7 linked regions of the Homo sapiens genome follow. Changing the gene in region 5 together with the main gene of any one other region gives a genetic interaction. Each region holds a gene or a part of one and is shown on either strand. Other genes may lie near its edges. The genes, in order: AAMP, UBTF, NXF1, GSPT1, KRAS, CDCA8 and PSMB6.

Region 1 (4,174 bases), on a different chromosome or scaffold from region 5:
GCCCAAAGGTGCCTGCAGGGGCTGTGGGGAAGAGCCTCCCGGGACAGTCCCGGCCCCAGCATTGCCTACCACCCAAGCAGCCAAAGCAGTGTCGACCTGGACTTGAACTAAAGGAAGGGCCTCTGCTGACTCCTACCAGAGCATCCGTCCAGCTCAGCCATCCAGCCTGTCTCTACCGGGCCCCACTTCTCTGGATCAGAGACCCTGCCTCTGTTTGACCCCGCACTGACTGAATAAAGCTCCTCTGGCCGTTTATGATTATCTCATTCCATATCTCAGGGCGAGGCAGGAGGAAATGGCTCAACACACCAACAATAGAAAGAACCTACAGACATACGCGTGGATTAAGGCAGAGTCCGACTCCAGGCAGGCAAGAAGTGTCGTGCGCACAGACCACCCCTGGAGATGGGGAGCTGGCACATCTCAACATCCAGCCGATTCTGCGGGACAGCCTTGCCCTGACGGGGCCCTCGCTAGCTCCTCCTAGGGTCCAGCCATCACAAAATCCACACAGACTCTGTCTCTGGGAAGTATATTTTATTTACATTTTTAAAATCTTTAACTAGTATCTCTTCCTCCTTTCCACCCCCAGAGACTTGGGAAGGGAAAGAACGGGAACCTCAAACACCTACTCCCCACATACAAATACACACCCCATGGCTCACACCAGCAAATGAAAGTGAAAGAGAAACAGGTCCACCCCTCCCTCTGAAGGGCCCACCAGGTCTGGACAAGGGTGGGAGGGCCCTGGGCTGGGTCTCTAAAGAGAAGAAAAGGAGAGGGGAGCAAGTCAGTTGAAGAGGCTGGAAAGTCATCCAGGGCCCCACCCTCCTCTTCCCTCTGTGCCCTACTGCCTCTGCTGGCAGACAGGGGCAGGGGTCCCTTCGTCCCCTCAACACCAGACACACAGGCAGGGGCTGCAGCCATTAACGGTCAGGCCTTTGGACACAAAATACTTTCGCTTTGTGGTCTCCTGACGTGGTCACCACCAGGGAGGCATCTCTGTAAACAGAAAGCATGTGATTGCAGAGACTGGGGGACCCAAGCCCACCACCTAGGGGCCCTAGGGTGGGCTCCTCCAGCACACCCTCAGTTCTAGGGCCCTAGTGCCTAGCACTGGGCCGACATCTCTGCAGCCAGCATGGAGGGGATTAGAGGAAGCCCCCAGCACGGGAGAAGCAGAGCTGACTCCGATGGGGAAAATCAGTCTCAGCCTCTCCCTCATGACTGAGACGTGGGGCCCCGGAGGGTCACTGTCAGCCACTGGAATGGGGGCTGGGCTGTGAACCCTCAGGCTTCTCTGCATTCCTGCCTTAGGAATCCCTTCCCACACCCCAAGGATCCTGTGTCCCCTACATACTACTGCCACCTTCCAAATACACAAAGATCCCAGCCCTTGGCCAATTCACTTACTTGCTGAGGGCAAAGTCCAGGATCTCAGCCGTGTGGCCCCGGTAGTCAGTAAGCAGGCGGCCGGTCCGGGCGTCCCAGAGGCGCACGATGCCATCCAGGCTGCAGGTATATACCACGGCAGTGCCTGCCTCCCACAGCAGCTGCACGATGCCCGACTGCCCCGAGGAATGACAGAGGCAGGGCGGAGGTTGGCAGGAGAGCTGAGAGCCATCTGCTCCCAATTCTCAAAGAGGGACAGCCACACACAAGGGCCAGGCAGGAGCCAGATCTGGGGTAGATGCTCCTGGAGGCCTGGGCTTCCCCACCACTATGGACACAGCCCACAGGGACCCCAGCTCCAGCTGCCCATACCTGGTGCTGACACTGATGCCTAAGAGTCTGCGTAGCCAGGTCATAGATGGCCAAGGTCCCATCCAGGTAGCCAACAGCTGCCAGGGGCATCCTGGCCAGAGGAGCGTACCATGAAGACTCATGAGGGCCTGGACTCACACGCCCTGCCGTCCTCCCGGGCCCCCAGCCCAGGCCCCTCCCACAAACCCCTTTCCCCATCCTCACTCACACACTGCAGAAGCCCAAGGACTCCACCGAGTTGGACTCACTCTCCTCCCCTTCTCCCAGGCTGGGCTGGGAGGCCACAGTCTCAGGTCTAAAAACACCCACCACCTGAAAGCCAGAGAGGATCAGAGGAGGACACGGAATCCGGGTGCTTGATGGAGAGAAAGACGGTGGGGAGAGGAGACAGTGAAGACCCAGGAAGGAAGGAGAGGAGTCGGGAAAGCGGAGGCCCCAGCCGGGCTCCAGGTCCACTCACCTTGCCGGTGGTGGCACTGACCAGCTTGGCCTGGCAGTCCACAGAGCCAGTTAGGATCAAGCTGCCATCCTGGTTGGCAGCAACACAGGTGAGTGGGCCCTGGTGACCCTCAGTCCCTAGCATAGAGCAGGGAGGCAGCTCAGGCTTCGTCCTACCTCCCCTCTGAGTCCTGCCCCAGGTTCTCAGCCCCTCCCTACAAAGGCCCAGGCTAACACTTCCCCCACCTCTGATACCTTTCAGTACATGGATAGGGCTTCCCTGCTTCAGGTCCCAAATCCTGATGGTCCCATCTTCATAGCCTACCACAGCTCTCTTCCCTGAAGAGAGGCACAGATGAAGAGAGGGCAGAGGGCACGCTCACATACACTAAGCAAGGGAATGGGGAGAGGGAGAGGAAAGAAGAGTGGAAGGGCCCAGACACTGCCCCAGGAATCACAGGTGAGTTCAGAGCAGGAAGGAGGCGCTGTGAACTTTGGGGCCCAGGAGGTCAGCACTGCAAACAGCAGGCCTCAGATTTTGCCGGCTGTGACCCAGAAGGCTGCTCTGGGAGGTGTATATCCCGGGATTCGGCCTCTGCACCCAGGAAAGGTCACTCAAGGGAGGTGCTCTCACCATCAGGGAGGACTCGGCCACAGGTGGCTGGGCAGTTGGGACCCTGGAAGGTCTTGCAGTCACCATTCGGGACTTTCCACATCCAGGTGTTGCCGTCAGCTGTGCCCGCCAACAGGACAGGTGCCCGAGGATGCCACTCCATCCACTGGACAGGGAGGAAGGGGCAGCAGGGAGGCCCGTCACCCCATCCCACCTAGAAGCCTGCCCCATGAGCTCCACCCAAGGTTTCCTGCCTCTGGGGTTCCGCGGGGACTTTCCAGGTAGCAGGTAGATATTCTTCCTGTGCCTTGGGGCGCATTGGCTCAGAGCTGGCTTGGCGCAATAAAGGCAGAACTGGCCTCCCAAGCTTGCACCCCCAACAACCCAAGGCCCCACAGAGCTGACTCCCGCTCTGATGATCTTACCTCCAGGTCTCCCGCTTCAAAGGACCAGACCTCCTCCTTAGTGTCCACCTGCCACACTTTCAAGAGGCCACTCATGTCCCCTGTGGCCACTAGAGTGGAGTCATGGCTGAAACCAGCACAAGTCACAGAGTCTTTATGGCCTTCAAAGAAAAGTGGGCAGAAAACAGAGGAAAAAAATAGGGTACCTGGTGCTGGGGGCATGTGATTCTGGTATCTGGCCCACTGAAAGGACCAGCTAGGAAAAAAAGAGGGGCGGGACTGAGCAGAACAGGTGCTGGAACTCACCACCACTCTAGGAACCAATACTCCCATGTCTGCTGGGAGACACTGCTGGCCCTCACTCAACCAGACCAAGTCCCAGCCTCCTATGCCTTCCCCCTTCTGTCCACTCTACACCTCTGCCCGCCTGCTCCTATACCAATGTGGCCTTCTCTGGCCTTTCCTGGATTCCCTTGGCCAATTAGTGCCTCCTGCCTCTGTGCCCAAAACACACTAGTATTCGCCCCGTGTCCCTGGGGCCCAGCACAGAGCTGGCACAAAAGAGATGTCACTAAGTGGCTGTTGGATGCACAACCTCTGCAGGTCAGCCTCCTAAGATCTCCCAAAAGAATATGACCTCTCCCAGGCCTCTACCCCAGCCCCCTCACCTGCACACTCAAAGAGCAGCTCCCCATCGCTGAGCCGCCATACGAAGGCTTTGTCATCTTCACCCCCGGTCACTGCCAAGGTATTGGTCTTGGGGTCCAGGCTCACACAAAACACAGATGCTGTCCCAAGAGATATTCCATGGGTAAGGGGACAGAGCTCCCACCTAGGGCTCTGTCCTTCACAATCTTCAGGAAACCCACCCCCTTTCACCCAAAGCGTGTCTTTCCTCCTGGAAAACACAGGTACATCCAAGTTCTTCTAAGTTTCAAGAATTGGGTTGTTAGAT
Region 2 (4,165 bases), on a different chromosome or scaffold from region 5:
TCCTTACTGTCCACACCCCATTCTCAGTCGTTGCACATTTAGAATATCCACTCAGAACTTGAACTTGGCAGCACATTTAGATATATTGCTTCCCTGCTTCCCTCCTTCTCTGACAAGCTACCTCGTTTCCCACAAAGCCCTGAATCACTGTACCTTCATTTCCACCCCTCTTCCCCTTACAGCAAATAGCTGCCCGTTGCAGCTTGGCACAGTATAAATGATAATAGCCTTGAAGCAAGCCAGACTTGAGTTCGAGCCTGGCTTTCTAGGTATAGCATGGTCTGGACTGGAGTCCCTGCCCTGATCCAATATGGCCACAGTTTCCTTAGGGCTGAGCCATATCTTGTCTGTGCCTTCAGATGGGAAGCAACCAGGGGCTGGGATGCCCTAGGGAGGAAGAGTTGAGCACTCAAGAACTGGGGAACAGATCGGGGGGATAGCATGAGCCAGGCATGATGGCCTCTGTTACTCTTTACCAGACCGTTGGTCCCAGGAAGACATGCTGACTTTGCTGGAATGCATGAAGAACAACCTTCCATCCAATGACAGCTCCAAGTTCAAAACCACCGAATCACACATGGACTGGGAAAAAGTAGCATTTAAAGACTTTTCTGGAGACATGTGCAAGCTCAAATGGGTGGAGATTTCTAATGAGGTAACTGATCCCCCTTTTCTGACATACACACATACCCCCCACTCAGCGTGGTGGGGGAAGTGAAACAGGCTGTAAACAGGAAGGAAAGAGACCAGGAGAGGCATTCATGTGGTCTCCCGTTAGCTCTCTACCTGCCCCTTTGCATTTTGGGAGGTGGCACGGTTGACAGCACTGGCTTAAAGTTATGCCACTTTCTATCTGAGTGGTCTTGAGCCAAACAGCCTGAGCTGTGCTGAGATTGACGGAGGTGCTAGCATGCTGAGATTGACGGAGGTGTTAGCATGGACAACCAGGTTGAGGTCAGTTAGTCCCCTTGTTGCTGGCCTTTGGTGTGTACTGACTGCCTGGGCCTCTGCGGTAGGCATGGGCCAGTGCCTGGGTGTCATGCTGCCTGCTTCATTTGGCTGTTGGCCTCTGCTCTTCTTTGGTAAATTTAGTCTAGTAAAGAGTAGAAGAGACCCGTTATAAGATGGGGGTATACTACTGTGTGGCATTTTCCTTTTCCCAACTTCCCCTTCCTCCCACCCCTCTTCCTCCAGGTGAGGAAGTTCCGTACATTGACAGAATTGATCCTCGATGCTCAGGAACATGTTAAAAATCCTTACAAAGGCAAAAAACTCAAGGTGAGTTACTAGGAGGAGGAGCATGAGGGGTATGGGAGGAAAGGTCCAAAGAAGGGATGTATTTGACCTCCATTGTGTCCTTGTCCCTTCTTCCAGAAACACCCAGACTTCCCAAAGAAGCCCCTGACCCCTTATTTCCGCTTCTTCATGGAGAAGCGGGCCAAGTATGCGAAACTCCACCCTGAGATGAGCAACCTGGACCTAACCAAGATTCTGTCCAAGAAATACAAGGAGCTTCCGGAGAAGAAGAAGGTGGGGGGAGGAGAGTTAAGGTGGGAGGAGGGGAGAGGCTGGGAGCAGCTGGTGTGGTGTGGGTCAGTTGGAGGTAGGCCTTGGAGAAACCTGGCATCAGGGATGAGGGTGAGTCAGCACAGCAGAATAGGTCCTGGGCAGCCACACCTGATTGCCCCTTCCTCGGCCCACACATGGTCAGGCACAGGCACCATCACAGATGTAAACCAGACAGCAGGTGCTCAGACCAACCTTTCCCCCTACAGAAAACCCACAGCATTCTGTTTCAAGCTCTCTCTCCCCCATACACCCATCCTCACTGTTAGGCTCCGCAGCACTTCTTCACCCTCTATGACGTTTCCCGTCATGGTCTCATTTGATACTTGCAATGTCTTTATAAAGGTAACCCTAGGAAAAGGTTATCCCAGTTTTGTGGGCAAGGAACTGAGGTGCAGGAGGGTTAAGTGTCCCGGGTGACACAACTATTGATGCTAGAGCAGGATTTAGTGCCCCAGAGTCCCAGTCCAGTGCTGTTACTGCCACGTCCACCTGTGAAGTGCACTTCTCCACGCACACGTGTTCACTCAAGGACACACATTGTCCCTCCTGGCCTCATACTGTTCCTTGCAGAGGTCGGGCACTGTCCCAGACCATCAAAGCATTAACTCTGGGTGGAGGGTTGCCTAAGCCTCCCAGGCAGGGCTCAGTCACAGAGCTCAGGAGGTCCCTCCCAGAGATAGGCAGCAAAACATTGGAGGAGCCTGCAGATGGGACACGAGGAAGATGGGATGGGGACAGAGGACACAAAGAAGAGACACGGGACAAGGAGACAGAGCCAGGGATAGATGGGGAAGGGCAGCAGGAAAGACAAGAAGCACATCTGCTTGGAGAGGAAACAAAGTCATACACAGCCAGTTCTCAAAAGGGGGCACTGGCCGCTGCCATGCTATGAGTAGCCCTTTTTCCTGGTTGGCATACCCTGGCTGCAGACTCACATGCCCTTGGTGCTGTACCCAAAAAAGCCAGCTGTCTGCAACCACTGCCCAAGCAGAGAGGGGTATGGATTGCTGGAACTGTTGACCCCTTTGATGAGGATGTTGGACAGTTGACTGCACACACCCAAACACTCTCATGGGATGGGAGGGAGAGGCCAAGCTCTAGAGTCAGAGCCAGGGAAGGCCAGAAGAAACTGGTAGAGTGGACAAGGTGCTGTCCTGGGGGACACAAGACTTGGGCCTGTTCTCCTGGCTCTGCCACTGAACCGCTGTGTATGGGGCCTTTGGTAAGTCATTTCACTTCTGTGGGCCTGGTCTTTATGTGAGGTGAGCCAGGTCTGTGTGGTCCCCTTCAGGTCTAAAACTGTTTTGTCTGAGGAGGACTGAGATGGGGGAAGAGGAGGCTGAGCTCTGCTTCTGGTTTTCTGTGGGAACTGTGGGAAAGGAGCACTGCCTTTCTATGCCTGGTGCTTCTATAAGAGGCAGGGGTTGGGCTCAGTTGCCATGAGCTCCTGGCACCTGCCAGTGCCACTCTTGTGAGCCCGCGAGGATGAAAGAAGAGATGGACATTGTGTGGGAGCCAAGAGAGAAGGTCGATGAGGAAGAGAAAGAGACACATTGGAAAGGAGGAACAAGAAGGAGACTATGGAGAAGTGGGGAAAGATGCAGGGAGGGAGTGAGGTGAGAGTGGGGAGGCTAAAAAGGGGGTGATGAAGGGAAGGGAAGCCAAGTGGTGGGAAAGAATGAGTGGGCTGAGGGAGGGAGGGCTGGAGGGGCCAGACAGCCAGGATCCTGGAGAAAGAGAAGAAGGTGATGGTGTGAGAACTGGGCAGGAAGATGCAGGGTAGCTGGCTGAGACTTGTATTGGAAGAACTCGCTCTGGGTTCCCCTCCACACAATCTCCCCTCATGCCTTGGAAACAGGACTCAGCCCAGCCCTGGCCATAGATGTAGAGGCTACGTACAAGGGGACAGACTAATGTCAGCTGCCACAGACAGTGAGAAGAGGGAGTGACAGGAGCAAGGCCTGCACCCGACGCCACTGTGAGAGTTCTATGGTGTTGGAGAAACGAGTGGGGGAGGCTCAGCGCTGCCACTGCGCACTGTGTGACCGTGGGTAATGCCATGGCCCCCTTCTGGGACTCTTGCTCAGAAGGAGAGAATAGGATGTAGGATTCAGTGTCTGGGCGACCCCTGCAGCTCCCACCATCTGTGGTAGAAGCCAGCAGGTCTGCTCTGTGGTGAGTCCCGCCAGGAGGCGGGCAGGGCGCCAGCCTCCACTCCCTGCATCACAGCGTGGGAGGCAGAAGAGCCAGCGAGGAGGGGTCTGGGTGGCCTTCATAGCTCAGGGTGAGATACCCTTGGGTCCTGAGTGACCCCATCCCCTCCTCCCCCCAGATGAAATATATTCAGGACTTCCAGAGAGAGAAACAGGAGTTCGAGCGAAACCTGGCCCGATTCAGGTAAGGCAGTGGAGCCCAGAGGAGGGCCACGGGGCACTGGGGGCAGCAGAATAGGCTAACCCTGGCCAGAGCCTTGAGTTTGCCATCTCTGAGGCATGGAAGAGGATGGGTCACATGTGAGCCCTAGTGTGTCATGCTCAGGGACAGAGACAGGCAGGCAGCCACCGTCCCACTGAGCCCCAGCTGAAAGGCCCAGGAG
Region 3 (4,165 bases), on a different chromosome or scaffold from region 5:
AGGGACAGCCCATCCCATCCTGCTCATCCCTCCACTCCCTCCCAGCCTGTGCTCAGGGAAAAATGGCCCCCACTCCCCACCTGACCCGGGGCACCCAGACATGGACTGCCTTGAAGGCTGTCTCTTTTCTCTCTGCCTGACCCTGAGTGTCAAGGAGCAGTACTCCAAGCCCAGGCTTTAAGCCCAGGACCTCTTTCCCCTCCCTGCCCCCCTTACCTTCCACCTACTCACCTGTGCAGCCCCGGGAGGAGGGAATGGGGTGGGAGCCCAGGGGCTCCGCTGCCTCACCAGGTATCCATCAGTTCTGCCAGGTCTGGCTTTGGCCAAGACCCAAACACACCACAGGGATGGCACAGGATGTTGGGGCAGGGAGATGAGCAGGTGGGGCTCAGGAAGAGGAGAGGCAAAGGAATAAGAAAGGAAAAGGAGGAAAAAGAGAAAAAGGCAAGATGGGGCAGGGGCAAGGGAGAGATGGGGAGGTATAGGAGACAGACAGAAAAAGGAAAGAGAAAGCAAAGAAAAAGAGAAAGAACTACAAGGCAAAAAAGCATCTAGAAAAATGAGGGAGAAAAGGGAGAAAGACACCCTGACACAGCCCTTTCTTTCAGCTGCCCCATCCCTGTGGTCCAAGGTAGAAATGAGAAACAAATCCTTGCTGTGGTGAGTGGGCACTTGCTGTTGGCCAGGTCTCTGTCTGCTACCTGGGTCCCGATCTGAACTGGGCGTGGGAAGCAAAGCAGCCATGGGGGCAGGAGACCTCCCTCAGAAGGTGTGAGGGTTCAGGCCCCTGTAGGATTGTGGGGGTGAGGGTCCATGCCCCACCTCTGTTGCCCCCAAGTTCTCTCCTGATGGCCCCTCTGCGACTGTGCCTGTCTTAGGTTGTTCCTTCCCTGAGGAATCTTACCCGTCTCTGGCTAACCAGCCATCCACCGGGGCCAAACAGGGTGACGTGCAGTGTGTGAGTGAGGGAGAGGCAGCGCCCCCGAGGGGGTCAGTTCTCTGTCTCCTTGGTAGCCTATGCCCCCGTGGCCTCCACGCCCAGCACCTGCCTTGGGATTCCCTCGCCTGCTGGCGGGGCCCCAGCTCTGGTCACATCTTGGGGAACCCAGGTTTCTTCTTCAGGGAGAGCCCAGCTCATAGCACTGGGCAAGAGAGACAGATTGCATGCCACCAGCCCCTAGGAGGCCTCAACCTCAGCATGGACAGCAACAGCCCTGGGCAAGTGGATCCTGAGAAAAGGGTCCCTCTTGGCGCAAGGGCAAGAGGGGCCATCACAGTACAAAGGAGGGAAGGCCCATCTCAGTAGGAAGTCCCAGGTAGGGAGGGCTTCCTCAACCCATGGACACCAGGCTCTTGGCACAAGGCAACCCCATCTATAGGGTATGTACAAGATACCCTCTGGTTAGAGTAGAAAGGGGAGATGCCTTTCCTGGAACAACAGGGTAGGGAGATTCTAGAAAAGGTTGTGTTCAGGAAGAAAGAGAAAGGCCACAGACCCAGCAAACAGATAGTCAAGTCAGAAGAGAAGAGAGAACATCTCAGGACAAAGCTGGAAGACACAGACAGACCAAAGTGGGGAGCACGCGATCCTCTCAAAGGACAGGTGGTTCCAGCTCAGGGCTGCACATCTCCGCAGACGGGCCCTGGTCAGGATGCATTAGCTCAGCCTCCCAGGGGGTGAAGGTCCCCAGGAGGGGAGACACAGGCTACAACTGACCTGATGTAGGTGGACTGGTCTCGGAAGGTGTCACACAGGGAGTTTCCATCGAGCCAGAGCTCTTCTAGCTTCAGCCCCTTTATCTTGTCCAATTCCCGCTCAGACTTCAACTGCAAAGGGTGGAAGGAACAAAGGGAGGAGACCCTGGTGAAGACAGCCAGCTGGCTCCCCATACCCCCAGTCCCTACGCTTAGCTCTGAGATCTTTTCTAATCTTTTAAAATTTTTTCTTTTTTTTTTTTTTTTGGGACAGGGTCTCACTCTGTCACCCAAGTTCAGTGCCGTGGCATGATCATAGTTCACTGCAGCCTCAAACTCCTGGACTCAAGAGATCCTCCCACCTCAGACTCCTGGGTAGCTAGGACTACAGGCATGTGACATCATGCTCGACTAATTTATTTTTTAAATTAAAAAAATTTTTTTGAGACAGGTTGCTCAGGCTAGAATGCAACGGCACAATCATAACTCACTGCAGCCTTGAACTCCTGAGCTCAAGCAATCCTCCCACCTCAGCCCCCTGGGGCAGCTTGGACTAGAGGCGTGCAAACTCCTAGCCTTAAGTGATCCTCCTGCCTTGGCCTCCCAAAGTGTTAGGATTAGAGTTGCAAACCAGCACATCTGGCCTGAGTTCTCTCTCTTGCCTCTTGCCATCACTGGACAAACTCTCTACACCCTCTACCCACCCCTTCAAAAATATAGCCGAGCTATCAATTCTCACTTCATTTCCAGAAAGGTTTAGGATCTTCAGGTTGGGTGCCTTCTGAACAATGCTAGACATGTCATCCAGCCTGTACAGCCTGTTGTTGCTCAAGTTCAAGGACAATAGCTGTGAGGAGAGAAGAGTTTAGAGGAGGCACCACCAGCAAGTGGATCAGAGACGAATCTGCCCTCCAGCCACTTCCTATCTAACACACCCTGCTTCCTCATGCCTAATACTGGGCCAAAGGCCTTACCTCAGGGATGTTCTCTTCAATGATCCTCAGGGTAGCTGCCATACAGCTTCTGCGATTCAGGACAACGTCAATGTTCTGGGCCACCAAATCTTCAGGAAGCAGAAGGGAAGGAAAGGGAAGACTGAGAGGGTTTGCCCATGCCAGCATTAGCAGTAAAACATCCTCAAACTTTCCCTCCCTGACAGATCCCACCTTATCACCACCTATCTGAGAACTACTGCTGTCAACCATACCTGGGTCTGAACGGAGGCCTTTGAGGTCAAGGGCTTGTTGGGAGCCATCGTATCGTTTGCTCATGATCAGCTAGAGGAAAAAGAAGGGTTTAGTGGTCACTGGGTTTGTGTGTGGGGGGTGGGGGTGTGAGAAGTAGTAAGACTGGGTTGGAAACATCTAATTTGAGCCTGCCTCACCTTTAGCTGTTCTACTTGTTCTGGCTTCAGTTCATTCAGTATAGTGTGGGGTGGAGCAGAAGAGTTGATGATGATAGATATCTGGAGGGAAGACACAGAGGGCACAGAAAACTCTAGGGAAGCCTAAGCCGCAAGAACAAGACCCAGTCCCTGCTCTGAGCACCAACCTCCACCTCCAGCCAAGCCAGGCCCTTTAAACACACCCTTCGGTTCTCCCGATCCAAAATCTTATAGTTGACAGCCTTCAATGCAGAGGCAGTACTGGCGTCTTCAACGAAGAACTGGGCCCGTGTATTCTCATAGTGAAACTACAAGAGGAAACAGGAGCATTACACTGGGAGTCCAGAGCCCTTGGGGAGGGGCATTACGCTGGGAGTCCAGCTTGCCCCTTCACCATCCCTGGTGCCTGGCCAGCCAGCCACTCAGGCCTTGTCTTACCTCAATAGGGGTGAAGGGCACACTGCACTTGCTCTGAATCATGCTCAGGAGCCATGCCTTGTCATACTTTCTGCCATAAGGAATCTAGAAATGAGAGAAAGAGAAAAGAAGGGAATGATAAGTAAGGCTGAATAGCAGACCCAATACAATGCCTTTTATACCTTCTACCAAACTTTTAAAGACTATCTAAAGAAAGGACCAGTACTAGGTTTTCTACTTGAGATACACATAGATTCTTTAACTCCTTTCTGTCTACTTACACTTACTATTTTTTCTTAGTAACAGGGCCTCACTCTGTCACTCAGGCTGGAGTGCAGTGGTGCGATCATAGCTCACTGCAGCCTTCATTTCCTAGGCTCAAGCGATCCTCCTGTCTCAGCTTTCTGGAGTAGCTAGGACTACAGGCATGTACTACCATGCCCGGCTAATTTTAAAATTTTCTGTAGAGAAGGGGTCTTGCTGTATTTCCCAGACTGGTCTTGAACTCCCAGCCTCAAGTGATCCTCCACCTCGGCCTCTCAAAGTGCTGGGATTACAGGCATGAGCCACTGTACCCAGCCCATTTACACTTATAATCTCTCAAAAAAAAATCAATTTTATTTATTCTAAAAGTTCCAAGATATTATTTACACCTTGCCTGCCCCTCAG
Region 4 (3,994 bases), on a different chromosome or scaffold from region 5:
TGGGATTACAGGCATGAGTCACCGTGCCTGGCCTGAACCCCTACTTTAATAGCAAGCTTGGTCCCAAGTTTTAAGCTATGATTGGTTTAATGCCAAATACCTAGAGGCTGACTGCCAAAACCTCAAAGCGATTCACCTAAAGACAGTTCAAACAGGAACTTAGTACACAGGAATGAACTGCTGTCATTCAAGTAGCCACTGTGTATGTTACCTTTATCATTAACTTCTTCTTGCCCTTGCACATTGAATGAAAAGGGCAAGCACTATTTGGTCTCTTGATCTTTATTAAAAATCCTGAATGTAGAGGTTCATAGTTCTAATAATAATTGACGTTTCCCCCAACTCTACTGTTCACATAAAACCACATAACTGTGATCTAGTTATTTATTATTCAGCATCCCTAACTTCCTATAGGGTTCTTATTTTTGTTTCCTAAGGTTGTCGTATACATTATACAAAAGACTTGCATGCCATATGCAAGCAGATGACGTTTGTGAATCCCTTATGTGACAGAGCTTATTAGATCCATCCAACAAACCTTTTGGTAGATGGTTCCAGTACCTGATACAAAAATAAAAGGATTGTACAAAAAAGGGCATGGTTTTTGCTTGTTACAACACAGGTAATTACAAACGACAAATCCTTCAAAAGGGAAGATGACAACTTTTATTGTTATTACAAAAGCAAATTTAATTTGTCATTTGAATAATTGCAAGAGCAGACTAAGGGCTTAATCCTCACACAGGCACCAAGTCAGGCACAGTAGGTAGCTACAAATCGTAAGAAAAAGCTTTCTTTCCTACCTAGAGCACTCTTCCATGCTTTGGAATTAGGCTAAAAAACTCAACAAACCTGATCAGTTCCCTTTAATCCTGTTTTTTTTTTTTTTTTTTAAATGAGATCTAGGTATTAACCTGCTGTCTAGCGAAAACTAGTCACTAAGTCCTGGCCTGAGAGATACCCACATTTCCTTTAGAACAAACAGAACTAATACCTGTGTACATTTCTGAGAGCCTGATGTGTGAGTCCTTAAAATGTAGACCTTGCAGGAGGCTTAGACCTCAGTTTCACCTAATGCATGTGGAGGAAATGGAGGTGAGAATAGTCACCTGAAGAGTGCAAGCGCTCCAGCTCCAGCACACACACTCTTCCCTGGGCAGCAGGAAAAGGAGGTAACAAGGACTTGGGCTGACATCTGAAGCACTAAGCTAATGTGCCTGGTAGAGGGGAGCCTCAGGAAGCACAAGATGTCATTCCACCTGTGCTGTCCACAAACCTGAGGTTTCCACATCGTTTTAAAGGGCACAGTGGCAAATGTGACAAGGCAGAAAACAATAACCATTTCAAGGATCACTTAAGGAATCCTGGTGTTTTCTGCCTAATCAGAAGTAGTACCAACCTGCTTTTCCCTTATATTGGAGAACATAAAGGTTTTAATTAATCTCCACTCCCACACCTTCAGGCCCTTATAATAATCCTTAGTAAACAACTCAGCTAGCATTATTGTTTCAAGGAAGCATAGGATTAGAGGTATGTGAGAAGTGTATTTATTGAAGGGAAGACTCAGTAAGTTCTAGGATATTAAAGTCAAGAATATCCTAGAGCCAAAAACCACCAAAAGTTGAACCAAATCTACCTGAACTGAACTGATAGTAAACTGGGTCAAATGGAATCCACGGAATTACTACTGGAAAATAAAAACACTTCCTATTCTTTCTATTCCTATTCATTTACTATGAAACCTAATCTAACCAACTGACTGCTAAATGTAAAGCTAGTTAAGTCTTTTGTGCATGTGCAATTACACTTACTTAACAAGATGCTGCCATGGCGAGATCTCTCACGAAAGAAACAAGATCAAGGATGTACTAGATGGCATCTGCTAGAATCACTGAAAAAGTTAGCTGCAAGAAATAAAAGCCTATTATTTGGAGATAGATAATTGTCCCCTGAATCCACTGGTTGTTCTCTTCCTTACCTATGTCTGTGAAAGGATTAATGGCACAGTTTGATAAGGTAAGCCAACAATGAATATAACATTTAACCATCCTAAAATCAGAGCTATAGTGCTATAACCACATTTTTCACAAAGGGTTTTAAAGTTGAAAGTTGCCTGATGTTAAGACCTGTAATAAAACTGCGTATTTTCCCCTTGACTACCTTAAATCCCTACCCAAAGCAATGAAGCTATCATCCATGAAGTAGCAGTCCATGAGGAAGTCCATGCCAGTAAGAAAAGGTGCTAGAGTGCTGTTATGTGTAATAGTCATCAAAGATCACGGAGTAATTCCAGTCATTACTAGTGTTCCTGCAGATCGCCAAGGGAGCTTAGCTGATTTTTTTCCAGGTTCATCTTGGGAGCAGTTTTTGATCATAGGTTCAACTTTTTTCTTGGGTTGCAAAACTGCATCTGGCTGCAAGTCTAACCCAAAATATTCGCAGCGTATCAGCTGAGAGGATGCCGGCAACTGTTGAACTACATCACAGTTCAAAGTCCCATATTGTGAGAGCAGTACTTGTAGTTTATGTAACCAGCAAATATGAGTTACCTCGTTACAGTGAACAACCTGCACTGTTAGAGTTTAGGAACTTTTGACATTCGGTTATCACATATTTCAAAGATTTTCAACTCACAAAAAAAAAATACATGGGCTTAATTACTCAGTAACACTTTACTATTTGTCACTTAATCTCAAGACAATACACACTCAGTCCAACTCTTTTGGTTTGATTTTACATAGATTTTCACTTACTTCTGCAAATTAAAAACAAGAAATGAGTGCTGTATTTCCCCCTCTCCCACAGTAAGAAACAAGGGTTTAAAATGGCAATTACTTAGATGTTTATTTCAATATTTCTTAAATTCACTTTATTAATTTAAAAAACTAAATAATCGCATGAAAGTTATATAAAGAACATCATTAATGTGAAAAGATGCAAGAAAAAAATCATTCTAGTAGAGCAACGTTAGAGAACAAATGCTTAGGTAATACCCTAAATATGCAGCCAACTACCCTATTTTTGCACTGTTGACCATATAAGCACGTTTGCATTTGCAGAAAACAGAATGACAGCATAGGAATTTGTATTGCTCTATAACGGTCCAACATCTCCACATAATGCCAAGTTCACCTTAGACATTTTATTTACTTATCCAAATGAACAGCCTGTGTAAGCAGGATTGAAAATGCATCAACTTTAAAAAGATGAGAACAATTTTCAAAGCCCATAGAACTTATGTTGCTGGTTAATTTTAGCACTGAAATTTCTTTTGAATAATCTAATCTTGCAAATATGCAAGAATCCAGTGGAATTTTTACAGTTACATTTGTATTTGTATGACCTGTTACTTTTTAGAGGTAGGCCCTTCACAGTTGATATCCAAGTTACTTAAGAGTCTTGGCAACATGCACATAATAGTCTAACAGTGTAAATGTTTTAGTAGCAAACATAACTTATTTTTTAAAAATGTGTTCTATTTAGAAAGGGAACTCTTATCTCTGGAAGTGATTTCCGTGGCTCTTGAACTTTTAAATATTCATTAAAATTCAAGCAATTGCTAGTATTTGTTTTTATTAACATGGAATTACAAAAAGAACTATTATGTTTTGATTAAAGCTCCTATATTTTCCAGAAAAATAAAAGCCCAGAGATTTGCAGACATAATAAAATCTATTTAAATTTCATGCAATAGCCATAATTATAGTTTTAAGAATCTGTAGGACAATAACTTTGCTCTGTCCATAAGATGTAGCCTCATTCAAGAAATGAATGGGAATTTCACAGTTAAGAAAACACTAGGCCAAGTGCGGCGCCTCATGCCTGTAATCCCAGCACTTTTGAGAGGCTGAGGCGAGTGGATCACTTGAGGTCAGAAGTTTGAGACCAGCCTGACCAATAGGGGGAAACCTCGTCTCCACTAAAGATACAAAAATTAACTGGGCCTCGTGGAGGGCTCCTGTAATCCCAGCTACTCAAGAGGCTGAGGCAGGAA
Region 5 (4,165 bases):
TTTTAAAATGACAGTGGAAGTTTTTTTTTCCTCTAAGTGCCAGTATTCCCAGAGTTTTGGTTTTTGAACTAGCAATGCCTGTGAAAAAGAAACTGAATACCTAAGATTTCTGTCTTGGGGCTTTTGGTGCATGCAGTTGATTACTTCTTATTTTTCTTACCAATTGTGAATGTTGGTGTGAAACAAATTAATGAAGCTTTTGAATCATCCCTATTCTGTGTTTTATCTAGTCACATAAATGGATTAATTACTAATTTCAGTTGAGACCTTCTAATTGGTTTTTACTGAAACATTGAGGGAACACAAATTTATGGGCTTCCTGATGATGATTCTTCTAGGCATCATGTCCTATAGTTTGTCATCCCTGATGAATGTAAAGTTACACTGTTCACAAAGGTTTTGTCTCCTTTCCACTGCTATTAGTCATGGTCACTCTCCCCAAAATATTATATTTTTTCTATAAAAAGAAAAAAATGGAAAAAAATTACAAGGCAATGGAAACTATTATAAGGCCATTTCCTTTTCACATTAGATAAATTACTATAAAGACTCCTAATAGCTTTTCCTGTTAAGGCAGACCCAGTATGAAATGGGGATTATTATAGCAACCATTTTGGGGCTATATTTACATGCTACTAAATTTTTATAATAATTGAAAAGATTTTAACAAGTATAAAAAATTCTCATAGGAATTAAATGTAGTCTCCCTGTGTCAGACTGCTCTTTCATAGTATAACTTTAAATCTTTTCTTCAACTTGAGTCTTTGAAGATAGTTTTAATTCTGCTTGTGACATTAAAAGATTATTTGGGCCAGTTATAGCTTATTAGGTGTTGAAGAGACCAAGGTTGCAAGGCCAGGCCCTGTGTGAACCTTTGAGCTTTCATAGAGAGTTTCACAGCATGGACTGTGTCCCCACGGTCATCCAGTGTTGTCATGCATTGGTTAGTCAAAATGGGGAGGGACTAGGGCAGTTTGGATAGCTCAACAAGATACAATCTCACTCTGTGGTGGTCCTGCTGACAAATCAAGAGCATTGCTTTTGTTTCTTAAGAAAACAAACTCTTTTTTAAAAATTACTTTTAAATATTAACTCAAAAGTTGAGATTTTGGGGTGGTGGTGTGCCAAGACATTAATTTTTTTTTTAAACAATGAAGTGAAAAAGTTTTACAATCTCTAGGTTTGGCTAGTTCTCTTAACACTGGTTAAATTAACATTGCATAAACACTTTTCAAGTCTGATCCATATTTAATAATGCTTTAAAATAAAAATAAAAACAATCCTTTTGATAAATTTAAAATGTTACTTATTTTAAAATAAATGAAGTGAGATGGCATGGTGAGGTGAAAGTATCACTGGACTAGGAAGAAGGTGACTTAGGTTCTAGATAGGTGTCTTTTAGGACTCTGATTTTGAGGACATCACTTACTATCCATTTCTTCATGTTAAAAGAAGTCATCTCAAACTCTTAGTTTTTTTTTTTTACAACTATGTAATTTATATTCCATTTACATAAGGATACACTTATTTGTCAAGCTCAGCACAATCTGTAAATTTTTAACCTATGTTACACCATCTTCAGTGCCAGTCTTGGGCAAAATTGTGCAAGAGGTGAAGTTTATATTTGAATATCCATTCTCGTTTTAGGACTCTTCTTCCATATTAGTGTCATCTTGCCTCCCTACCTTCCACATGCCCCATGACTTGATGCAGTTTTAATACTTGTAATTCCCCTAACCATAAGATTTACTGCTGCTGTGGATATCTCCATGAAGTTTTCCCACTGAGTCACATCAGAAATGCCCTACATCTTATTTCCTCAGGGCTCAAGAGAATCTGACAGATACCATAAAGGGATTTGACCTAATCACTAATTTTCAGGTGGTGGCTGATGCTTTGAACATCTCTTTGCTGCCCAATCCATTAGCGACAGTAGGATTTTTCAAACCTGGTATGAATAGACAGAACCCTATCCAGTGGAAGGAGAATTTAATAAAGATAGTGCTGAAAGAATTCCTTAGGTAATCTATAACTAGGACTACTCCTGGTAACAGTAATACATTCCATTGTTTTAGTAACCAGAAATCTTCATGCAATGAAAAATACTTTAATTCATGAAGCTTACTTTTTTTTTTTGGTGTCAGAGTCTCGCTCTTGTCACCCAGGCTGGAATGCAGTGGCGCCATCTCAGCTCACTGCAACCTCCATCTCCCAGGTTCAAGCGATTCTCGTGCCTCGGCCTCCTGAGTAGCTGGGATTACAGGCGTGTGCCACTACACTCAACTAATTTTTGTATTTTTAGGAGAGACGGGGTTTCACCCTGTTGGCCAGGCTGGTCTCGAACTCCTGACCTCAAGTGATTCACCCACCTTGGCCTCATAAACCTGTTTTGCAGAACTCATTTATTCAGCAAATATTTATTGAGTGCCTACCAGATGCCAGTCACCACACAAGGCACTGGGTATATGGTATCCCCAAACAAGAGACATAATCCCGGTCCTTAGGTAGTGCTAGTGTGGTCTGTAATATCTTACTAAGGCCTTTGGTATACGACCCAGAGATAACACGATGCGTATTTTAGTTTTGCAAAGAAGGGGTTTGGTCTCTGTGCCAGCTCTATAATTGTTTTGCTACGATTCCACTGAAACTCTTCGATCAAGCTACTTTATGTAAATCACTTCATTGTTTTAAAGGAATAAACTTGATTATATTGTTTTTTTATTTGGCATAACTGTGATTCTTTTAGGACAATTACTGTACACATTAAGGTGTATGTCAGATATTCATATTGACCCAAATGTGTAATATTCCAGTTTTCTCTGCATAAGTAATTAAAATATACTTAAAAATTAATAGTTTTATCTGGGTACAAATAAACAGGTGCCTGAACTAGTTCACAGACAAGGAAACTTCTATGTAAAAATCACTATGATTTCTGAATTGCTATGTGAAACTACAGATCTTTGGAACACTGTTTAGGTAGGGTGTTAAGACTTACACAGTACCTCGTTTCTACACAGAGAAAGAAATGGCCATACTTCAGGAACTGCAGTGCTTATGAGGGGATATTTAGGCCTCTTGAATTTTTGATGTAGATGGGCATTTTTTTAAGGTAGTGGTTAATTACCTTTATGTGAACTTTGAATGGTTTAACAAAAGATTTGTTTTTGTAGAGATTTTAAAGGGGGAGAATTCTAGAAATAAATGTTACCTAATTATTACAGCCTTAAAGACAAAAATCCTTGTTGAAGTTTTTTTAAAAAAAGCTAAATTACATAGACTTAGGCATTAACATGTTTGTGGAAGAATATAGCAGACGTATATTGTATCATTTGAGTGAATGTTCCCAAGTAGGCATTCTAGGCTCTATTTAACTGAGTCACACTGCATAGGAATTTAGAACCTAACTTTTATAGGTTATCAAAACTGTTGTCACCATTGCACAATTTTGTCCTAATATATACATAGAAACTTTGTGGGGCATGTTAAGTTACAGTTTGCACAAGTTCATCTCATTTGTATTCCATTGATTTTTTTTTTCTTCTAAACATTTTTTCTTCAAACAGTATATAACTTTTTTTAGGGGATTTTTTTTTAGACAGCAAAAACTATCTGAAGATTTCCATTTGTCAAAAAGTAATGATTTCTTGATAATTGTGTAGTAATGTTTTTTAGAACCCAGCAGTTACCTTAAAGCTGAATTTATATTTAGTAACTTCTGTGTTAATACTGGATAGCATGAATTCTGCATTGAGAAACTGAATAGCTGTCATAAAATGAAACTTTCTTTCTAAAGAAAGATACTCACATGAGTTCTTGAAGAATAGTCATAACTAGATTAAGATCTGTGTTTTAGTTTAATAGTTTGAAGTGCCTGTTTGGGATAATGATAGGTAATTTAGATGAATTTAGGGGAAAAAAAAGTTATCTGCAGATATGTTGAGGGCCCATCTCTCCCCCCACACCCCCACAGAGCTAACTGGGTTACAGTGTTTTATCCGAAAGTTTCCAATTCCACTGTCTTGTGTTTTCATGTTGAAAATACTTTTGCATTTTTCCTTTGAGTGCCAATTTCTTACTAGTACTATTTCTTAATGTAACATGTTTACCTGGAATGTATTTTAACTATTTTTGTATAGTGTAAACTGAAACATGCACATTTTGT
Region 6 (4,165 bases), on a different chromosome or scaffold from region 5:
TTAAAAATAAATTTTTAAAAAAGAAAAATAAGCAGAGGGCAGGGCATAGGGTGGGGATTCATGCCTATAATCCTAGCACTTTGGGAGGCCAAGGCAGGAGTATCACTTGACCCCAGGAGTTCAAAACCAGCCTGGGCAACATAGCAGGAGACCACATCTCTACTTAAAAAAAAAAAAAAAAAAAAAAAAGACAACCTGGACAACTTGGCGAAACCCTATCTCTACAAAAAAACACAAAAATTAGCCGAATGTGGTGGCGCATGCCTGTAGTCCCAGCTACTTGGGAGGCCAAGGTGGGAGGATCAGTTGAGCCCAGGAGACAGCCAAGGAGGCGCCACTCCACTCCAGCTTGGGTGACAGAGCAAGACTCTGTCTCAAAAATAAATAAAATTTAAAATATATTTTTTAAAAAGAAAAATAAGCAGAATTTTTGGGGTGATGTTTGAGCTGAGTTTTGAAGGATGAGTTAGAAATTTGTTAAGTACGGAGGTGAATTTCAGGCAGAGGAAATACAAAGTACCATGGCAACAAGTCATGAGAGTCAGTGGCACATTTGGGATATAACTTGGAGAAAGAATAGATTAGATGGTGAAGGTCCTTGAAGGTTAGACCAAGGGCTGGACCAGTTTTAGAAAGATAAATGGTACTATTAGGCAAGATGATTTATTGTTAAAATGTAATAGTAACTACAACGTTCTTTTTAAAGCCCTTGGAGGAAACAAACAGGCCCTGGAAGAGGCGGCAACAGTAAGTGACCTTTCCTATTTTCCAGCCAGTGGTTACTTAAGTCTAGTCCAGTCCCCAGATCCAACTAATAGATGCTTACTGTGGAAGAGGTTTCATAAAGGGACATCATCTGTTTGTGTCAACTGAAAAATTAGAGTTGGACCAGACACTGTATACATGAGACCCAGATAGTTCTGAGCCCTACAGAAGGTGGCAGTTCTGTTTTTGACCAATTTCTTGCAGTCCTTTGTTCTGAACTCTACAGCGGAAGTAGAAAGCCTCAAGCCCAAGTTCCTTTAAGCGCCTGAGTCATTACACTATGCATTGGCCTGCTAGATGATAAAGGTGTTTCATCATGTCGTACTGTAGAAGCAGTGCTTTTGCTTGGGATGCTCAGTATTCCCCAACCCCTCTCATCTCCTTCCTCCCAGCATCAGTGCCAGGATTGAAGGCAGTAAGATGGGGATGCAAAATAGAGCATTTAAAGCTGCACTGTCCAGTGTAGTAGCCACTGGGCATATGTAGCTATTTCAGTTAATTACAATTAATAAAATTAAAGAATTCATTTCCTCAGACATACTAGCCACATTTTACATGTTCAATACCTACATATGACTAGTAGCTACTCCATCAGAGAGCACAGAAATAGAACATTGCTACTCTTGCAGAAAGTTTTATGAGACAGCATTGGGAACTAGTCCATACATGGGCTTCACAGAGTCCCTAGGCACTCTAAAATAATATACAAACAATGCGTGTGTATGCACGCATTTGTGTATCTTTCTGTTAGTTTATTGTAGCCTTGATCAGATTTACAAAGTAAACCCCAAAATTACATCTTTTGTTGAGTTGATCAGAATCATTTGGAATATCAGGGTTTGAAGGAGTCTGACCACCAAGGGCACATAGCAGATCTCCGCCAGCTTCATTCAGAAGGTAAAGGTAATGAGGAGCCAATTATCAATTTGGAAAAAATTGGAGCATTTGGGAGAGAGGTGGGGATTATTCACCCCCCTACATACACTGAGCTCCAATGTTTTAAAAGAGTTACCTCTGAGATGAATTATGCTTACTAGCTAATGCAGTTCTCTCTTTTTAAATTAGAAATACAGAACTGCAAATGAGAACTTCTAATGTAATATGAGAGAGCCATTGTTACCACACCAAGTTGAGAGAATTCTAGCCTTGACTAATATGATTTAAAACTCCAGAAAGGAACGATAGAAAATCTATAAAAGCTCTTAGTTGGGAAGTGTGTTGGGGCTCCCAAGACCACCTCCAGGTTTGGTGATTCACTAGGAGGATTCATGGGGCTCAGCATACAGTCACACCCATGGCGATGATTTATTACAGTGAAAGTATACAAAGCATTAATCAACAAAGGAGAAAATTGCATAGGACAAAGTCCAGAGGAAACCAGGCTTCTAGGAGTCCACTCCCTGTAGAGTCAAACAGAACATGCTTAATTCAACACATATGAAATGCTGTCTACCAGAAAATCTGATTAGAGAGTCAATGCCCAGAGTTTTAACTGGGGGCTGCTCACATAGGCATCCTCTGCCTAGCACATGTCAAAATCCTAGACTTTCAGGAGGGAAGTAGGTGTTCAGCATGAGCCATATTGTTTGCATAAAGTTTAGGCACAGTGAGGCATCTTGTTAAGGAAAGGTGGGAATCTTTCTGAAATCAAGTTCCCAGATGCCAACCGAGGCCAGGCTTGCAAACAGGCCTTTCTATGTGTATCAGTCTCAGGCCTGCTCTGTTAACTGTCCTGCACAGTAGATGCCCAGTGGCCTGCCACCACTGATGACTCCATAAAATGCCAGTTGTTTCTAGAGATGGCAGAAGGTTGGCAGGAATGCCCCTACTTTCTGTTGCATCAAGCCTGGCAAACATCAGTAACTTATTACAGCCCTATTTCTTGCTAAGCCTAAGACAGCCTCAGAATCCTTCTCTGAGTATGTCAAGCAGTCCCTACCAGAAATGAAACCTGTGCCATTCCAAACCTGTAGTAATTATTCTGATGTTTACATGTGTTCTATAAGGAAAGGACTGTGAATCATGACTGCTCTTTGTAGTGCCCATACTTATTACCATATGAAAAAAAAACGAATTTGAATGGTGACTGGAAGCCTTTTTGAAGGACCCAGGATCATCATAGAAAACCTTATTGAGACCCTGTAGATTTATCGAAAAAATGGTAAGCTTGACACACCACCAAGTGTTGTAGAGGATGTAGATCATTAGGAACTTGTATTGTTTGCAGATGGGCTGTAGTCAAGGGTAACCACTTTGGGAAACAATTTGGCATAATGCGAAGGCTGAATATTTATGTAACCTATAATCCCTGTCATGTCCTATCCAAAGGATAGAGCCAAGGGGAAACTTGGACATGTACCTCAGACACATGTAAGACAGTTCAAGGTAGCAGTGTTTATAATAGCAGGAAACTATTGATGGAAGATGGACAAATCCATTGTGGTATATTCACACAGTGGGATATGATATAGCAATGAAAACAAATTAACTACAACCACAAAGAGTGGTGAAAACAGCCAAAACCAAACAAAATGCTTAAGTACACACTTGTGAAAAAGCACATCTGTGTGTGCACACATGTATACACACATATGCATGTATCTGTGAGCACATACACATGTACCTTTCGATAAAGCAAGTGCAATGATATGGTTACCCCTGGGGAATGAAGGATTAGGAGACTCATCACCTTTGGAAGAAGAGATAAGAAAATGGAACAAGGAATGAATACAGAGCCAGAAGCAAGTTATTGGCAATGTTTTAGGTCTTGGGCTGTGTGGTGGGTTTATGGGAGTTTGCTATATTGTATATTGTATCACTAACATTTAACAGTCTTATGTATTAAATAATAGTTTTAAAAAAGTTTTTATCTTGAAATATTGTTCCTCATATTTTGGTGGAATAAGCCTGGTGCTTTCTGGCTATGTTTGTCATAGGCTGACCTGGATATCACCGAAATAAACAAACTAACAGCAGAAGCTATTCAGACACCCCTGAAATCTGCCAAAAGTGAGTACCTTTCAAAACTCCTTGTTGTACAGAAAGAACTGAGGCTCAGGTTGCTTGGTTGGCTGCTCAGGCAGCGCCTTGTTGGTAGAGCCTCTTCCCTTTAATGTCTGGTTCTTAATCTTGTAAATCCAAAAACTTGCTTTTGGATGGTGCATTTAGTTAATTTTTTTTCCCCCGAACAGCAATTCAAACCAGAAATTTAGTTAATTTTAGGCAGGACTGCTAAAAACCAAACTCAAGACCCGTGTGCGAGCTAAAATGAAAGTGAAAAAAGGGGGGAAAAAAGCTGTGCTAGAAACCAAACATTGTTGCCTGCTTACTTTCTCCTGGGTTAAATAGATGACAAGATTTAGAGAGGTGTTAAAAGACTGGTAACACCAACTGAGACGCT
Region 7 (4,657 bases), on a different chromosome or scaffold from region 5:
CGGAGCTTGCAGTGAGCCGAGATTGCGCCACTGCAGTCCGCAGTCCCGCCTGGGCGACAGAGCGAGACTCCGTCTCAAAAAAAAAAAAAAAAAAAAAAAAAGACAAATAGAGCTGGGTTCAGTGGCACACACCTGTAGTCCCAGCTACTTGAGAAGCTGAGGCGGGAGGATCACTGGAGCCCAGGAGTTCGAGGCTGATATAGTGCACCATGATCCCATCTGCACTCCAGCCTGGGAAACACCGCAAGACAAACCCACCCCACACACACACCCCACCCTCGTCTCAAAAAAAAAAAATTAAACCCCAAAAATATATTAAACAAAAGACATATCCCAATTTTAGAATGTGCAAAGAACTTGAAAAAACATTGCATCAAAAAAGACATACAAATGGCCAATTATCTCATGGAAATATGCTCAGCATCACTAATCATTAGAAAAATACCAATGAAAACCACAGGGTACCACTTCACACCCACTGGAATGGCTATAACTAAAAAAATGCACAATAACAAGTGTTGGTGAGGATGTGGAGAAATTGGAACCCTCACACATGGCTTGTAGGGATGTAAAATGGTGCAGTTTCTGTGGAAAACAGTTTGTCGGTTGCTCAAAATGTTAAACATACAGTTATCATAGAACCCATAAATTCCTCTGCCAGCATATACTCCTAAGTATATAACTAAAAGAAATGAAAACATGGTGTGGTCACTTTAGCCCAAAGACTCTCAGGTTTATTTTGTGGGCCCTTTGGACTGTAACTCCATAAGATCGGTACGGCGCAAGCCACTAGGACTGTTTTTTGTTTTGTTTTGTTTTTGCTTTTGTTTTGAGACAGTCTTGCTCTGTCGCTCAGGCTGGAGTGCAGTGGCGTGATCTCGGCTCACTGTAACCTCCGCCTCCCAGGCTCAAGCGATTCTCCTGCCTCAGCCTCCCCAGTAGCCGGGATTACAGGCGCGCCCCACCACGCCCGGCTAATTTTTGTATTTTTTAGTAGAGAAGGAGTTTCACCATGTTGGCCAGGCTGGTCTTGAACTCCTAACCTCATGATCCGCCCGCCTCAGCCTCCCAAAGTGCCGAACGGTTTTTGGGTTTTTTTTGGTTTTTTGGGGGGGGGGTTTTGCTGACTTTCTTGTTTTGTTTGTTGCTTGCCACGCTGCCATCAAGTGCTCACTGTCGCAAAAGAACCGTCCCCATGCAGTACTGTACTTTTCTTTTCCCTTCTGCCGTCAACCTCGGAGTAGCTTCGCTCCCAGAAGGCCTCAAAGCGCGACCAAAGAGCGTGACAGAGCGCTTTACGACAGTTGCTTTGAGGCAGTACCGGAGGAGAAAGATGGCGGCTACCTTACTAGCTGCTCGGGGAGCCGGGCCAGCACCGGCTTGGGGGCCGGAGGCGTTCACTCCAGACTGGGAAAGCCGAGAAGTTTCCACTGGGGTGAGGAAGGAATCGGGGTTCATAGGACGTGCACAAGGCCTGACGCGATGGGAAGATAAAGCCTGAGTGGGGTTGAGAGATCTGGCAGGGGTGGAGAGGAGGTGGAATGTGTTGTGCTCCAGGAATGGGGAGAGGTACCCCGAAGATGGTGGAGTGGTGCGGTAGCTTCGTAGTGGGAGGTGGAGGGTGGGCTGAAGTTTGAAATTCTGAAATCCTGCGAGGCTAGTGAGGATCTTGGGCTTAAGTACGGGATGAGTCTTTTGAGATTTGAGGGTTGGCATTCTGGTATTCTGCGGGGTGCTGAGGCCCCTATAAGATTTGAAAATGGTTCAGCGACGGACAGATTTTGTATTTTTGGAACTAGGTAGAGAGATCATTGAGGTTTGTGTCTGCTGGAGAATGTAGACTTACTCCTTTTTCCCTTTTCCCAGACCACTATCATGGCCGTGCAGTTTGACGGGGGCGTGGTTCTGGGGGCGGACTCCAGAACAACCACTGGGTGAGCTCAGGACAGATTTGTGAAAGGTCTTCCCATCTTCCTTTTCCTTTCCTGCCTGCCAGCCCACCCTGCCTGCCTCCACAGACCACTGTGGGAAGAGAGGTTTCTTCTCTCTCTGGAGATAAAGATTTGTCCCAACTTTTGTTACTTTCAGTTCCCCTCACTCGTTAGTGGAATCCTTACAAAAGTCTGTTCTCCAGCCCGCTTCAGTTTGGATGAGAATAAGCAATACTGGAGGCCAGGCACGGTGGCTCACGCCTGTAATCCCAGTACTTTGGGAGGCCGAGGCGGGTGGATCACCTGAGGTCAGGAGTTCGAGACCAGCCTGGCCAACATGGCGAAACCCCGTCTCTACTAAAAAATACAAAAATTAGCCGTGCGTGGCGGTGCGTGCCTGCAGTCCCAGCTACTTGGGAGGCTAGGGCTAGAGAATCGCTTGGACCCAGGAGGTGGATGTTGCAGTGAGCAGAGATCGCGTCACTGTACTCCAGCCTGGGCAACAGAGCGAGACTCCATCTCAAAGAAAAAGGAAAAAAAGGCAATACTGGACATCCTATCCCTGAGCCCTAAGAGAGTGGGTAGTGATGGGATGGAGGTGGAAGACAGGTGGGCTCCTTTCCTCACTATTCTGCCATCCTGCAGGTCCTACATCGCCAATCGAGTGACTGACAAGCTGACACCTATTCACGACCGCATTTTCTGCTGTCGCTCAGGCTCAGCTGCTGATACCCAGGCAGTAGCTGATGCTGTCACCTACCAGCTCGGTTTCCACAGGTGCTTGTGGGCAGGGGAGGGGCAAGTATCTGAAGGGAGTTGGAAGCTGAGGAGCTAAATAGCCTGACTTCTAGGTCTTGAAACTTTCTCTGTGACTTCCCTGACCCTCTAGCATTGAACTGAATGAGCCTCCACTGGTCCACACAGCAGCCAGCCTCTTTAAGGAGATGTGTTACCGATACCGGGAAGACCTGATGGCGGGAATCATCATCGCAGGCTGGGACCCTCAAGAAGGAGGGCAGGTCAGATCCCCACCCGACCAGAGCACACTTGAGCCAGGACTTTTATCCTCTCCCCAGCCATTTTCTTTTTCTTTCCAGTCTCTACCTCACTTATTCTTACTATTAACGTGCCTCAGACCAATAGCAGAATGGACAGGTGAATGTACGTGTGTTGGAGGGAGGATACGACTGGTGACTCCTCTCCTTCTATCTGGCAGGTGTACTCAGTGCCTATGGGGGGTATGATGGTAAGGCAGTCCTTTGCCATTGGAGGCTCCGGGAGCTCCTACATCTATGGCTATGTTGATGCTACCTACCGGGAAGGCATGACCAAGGAAGAGTGTCTGCAATTCACTGCCAATGGTGAGAGCTTAGGCTTCTGGGCCTATGAGCTTCAACCCCAACTACCCAAGCCAGGCCAGCATTCCTCATTCCTTGCAGTGATCCCGGCATCTGAATCTGAACCCAGCTTTCTTCTTTTATCCACAGCTCTCGCTTTGGCCATGGAGCGGGATGGCTCCAGTGGAGGAGTGATCCGCCTGGCAGCCATTGCAGAGTCAGGGGTAGAGCGGCAAGTACTTTTGGGAGACCAGATACCCAAATTCGCCGTTGCCACTTTACCACCCGCCTGAATCCTGGGATTCTAGTATGCAATAAGAGATGCCCTGTACTGATGCAAAATTTAATAAAGTTTGTCACAGAGAATCTTTGTACTTTGGGGTTCTTTTTTTTTTGACTTCAAGTCCGAATTTGTCTGGCCCATTCCTATTTGTAAAAACCATTGCACTGAACTCAGAGCAAGTTGGAGAGGAGATGAAAGGAGTTTATGAATGCTTTATTCCCCAGTAAACTTTTACATGGGTGGTTTTCAAACCTCTTCTCCAAATTGCCTTCCCCCAAACTTCCTTTCCCCCACCATATCCAGGTCCTTGAACCACTGGATTGTGGTTGGTGTTGGGGGTACCAGCAACACCCACTCCCTGTTCAAGCCCAAGGTGGAACTCGGAATTCTGACTAAAACTGGAGTCACCTTCCTTCAGCCTGCTTCCTGCCAGTCATCCTGGGTGACTACTGTCCCTAAGGCCACAAAGACCAGCCTCCTCCAGCCCAGCCTCATGGTCCCCTCTCTCCACACTTAACCTCTGTTACCTCACCTTGTGGTCAGCAGTAGCACTGTGACTTCCTTGGCTTTTGGGAGAAAGGTGGGCCTTGTCTGCAAATGGAATTTAAGATGAATGATGAGTGGGAGAACAAAACCACTGGGAGTGGTTTGGCCAGCTCTGGAAGCCACCATTCCCATGGTAGGGGGTGTGATCAACCTCTTGGATGAGAGGCTGAAAATAGACTCTGGCCCTTCCGAAGCTGTCCCCACTCAAGCCAGGGACATAAAGGAGCTCGATAGCTGGGACTACAGGTGTGTGTCACCTCACCTCAGGCTAATTTTATTATTATGTATTTTTTAGAGACAGAGTCTCGCTCTGTCATCCAGGCAGCAGTGTCACTGTCATAGCTCACTGTAACCTCAAACTCCTGGGCTTAAGTGATTCTCCTGCCTCAGCCTACCAGTGTGCTGGGATTACAGGCATGAGCCACTGTGCCCATCCTTTTTTTATTTTATTTAGTTATTTATTTTATTTTTTTTGAGATGGAGTCTCACTCTGTTGCCCGGGCTGGAGTGCAGTAGCCTGGTCTTGGCTCACTGCAACCTCCGCCTCCCGGGTTCTGGCG

Evidence for each region.
Region 1: changes in KRAS (region 5) and AAMP are lethal when combined (synthetic lethality), as found in Homo sapiens cells (2 studies listed by BioGRID, with this or other methods).
Region 2: changes in KRAS (region 5) and UBTF are lethal when combined (synthetic lethality), as found in Homo sapiens cells (2 studies listed by BioGRID, with this or other methods).
Region 3: changes in KRAS (region 5) and NXF1 are lethal when combined (synthetic lethality), as found in Homo sapiens cells (2 studies listed by BioGRID, with this or other methods).
Region 4: changes in KRAS (region 5) and GSPT1 are lethal when combined (synthetic lethality), as found in Homo sapiens cells (3 studies listed by BioGRID, with this or other methods).
Region 6: changes in KRAS (region 5) and CDCA8 are lethal when combined (synthetic lethality), as found in Homo sapiens cells (3 studies listed by BioGRID, with this or other methods).
Region 7: changes in KRAS (region 5) and PSMB6 are lethal when combined (synthetic lethality), as found in Homo sapiens cells (3 studies listed by BioGRID, with this or other methods).

The regions. Positions count from the first base shown.
Region 1 is NC_000002.12:218,263,607-218,267,780, forward strand, and holds the end of AAMP (angio-associated migratory cell protein), read right to left. Parts: intron 4,008-4,174; coding exon 3,888-4,007; intron 3,381-3,887; coding exon 3,241-3,380; intron 2,982-3,240; coding exon 2,837-2,981; intron 2,542-2,836; coding exon 2,458-2,541; intron 2,341-2,457; coding exon 2,225-2,340; intron 2,077-2,224; coding exon 1,973-2,076; intron 1,856-1,972; coding exon 1,765-1,855; intron 1,569-1,764; coding exon 1,414-1,568; intron 1,003-1,413; coding exon 927-1,002; 3' UTR 523-926; downstream 1-522. Other genes in the region: GPBAR1 (G-protein coupled bile acid receptor 1), read left to right, coding at 1-111. UniProt on the Homo sapiens protein: Plays a role in angiogenesis and cell migration. In smooth muscle cell migration, may act through the RhoA pathway.
Region 2 is NC_000017.11:44,213,019-44,217,183, reverse strand, and holds part of UBTF (nucleolar transcription factor 1), read left to right. Parts: intron 1-479; coding exon 480-655; intron 656-1,194; coding exon 1,195-1,278; intron 1,279-1,374; coding exon 1,375-1,530; intron 1,531-3,901; coding exon 3,902-3,966; intron 3,967-4,165. UniProt on the Homo sapiens protein: Recognizes the ribosomal RNA gene promoter and activates transcription mediated by RNA polymerase I (Pol I) through cooperative interactions with the transcription factor SL1/TIF-IB complex.
Region 3 is NC_000011.10:62,798,660-62,802,824, forward strand, and holds part of NXF1 (nuclear RNA export factor 1), read right to left. Parts: intron 3,602-4,165; coding exon 3,518-3,601; intron 3,388-3,517; coding exon 3,283-3,387; intron 3,161-3,282; coding exon 3,080-3,160; intron 2,973-3,079; coding exon 2,903-2,972; intron 2,759-2,902; coding exon 2,670-2,758; intron 2,543-2,669; coding exon 2,435-2,542; intron 1,828-2,434; coding exon 1,718-1,827; coding exon of another isoform or gene 1,663-1,717; exon of another isoform or gene 1-1,662.
Region 4 is NC_000016.10:11,867,485-11,871,478, forward strand, and holds the end of GSPT1 (eukaryotic peptide chain release factor GTP-binding subunit ERF3A), read right to left. Parts: 3' UTR 644-3,994; downstream 1-643. UniProt on the Homo sapiens protein: GTPase component of the eRF1-eRF3-GTP ternary complex, a ternary complex that mediates translation termination in response to the termination codons UAA, UAG and UGA.
Region 5 is NC_000012.12:25,205,487-25,209,651, reverse strand, and holds part of KRAS (GTPase KRas), read left to right. Parts: 3' UTR 1-4,165. UniProt on the Homo sapiens protein: Ras proteins bind GDP/GTP and possess intrinsic GTPase activity. Plays an important role in the regulation of cell proliferation.
Region 6 is NC_000001.11:37,695,204-37,699,368, forward strand, and holds part of CDCA8 (borealin), read left to right. Parts: intron 1-706; coding exon 707-747; intron 748-3,701; coding exon 3,702-3,774; intron 3,775-4,165.
Region 7 is NC_000017.11:4,794,862-4,799,518, forward strand, and holds PSMB6 (proteasome subunit beta type-6), read left to right. Parts: upstream 1-1,302; 5' UTR 1,303-1,333; coding exon 1,334-1,435; intron 1,436-1,866; coding exon 1,867-1,934; intron 1,935-2,576; coding exon 2,577-2,708; intron 2,709-2,820; coding exon 2,821-2,950; intron 2,951-3,147; coding exon 3,148-3,292; intron 3,293-3,398; coding exon of another isoform or gene 3,399-3,418; coding exon 3,419-3,561; 3' UTR 3,562-3,634; downstream 3,635-4,657. UniProt on the Homo sapiens protein: Component of the 20S core proteasome complex involved in the proteolytic degradation of most intracellular proteins. This complex plays numerous essential roles within the cell by associating with different regulatory particles.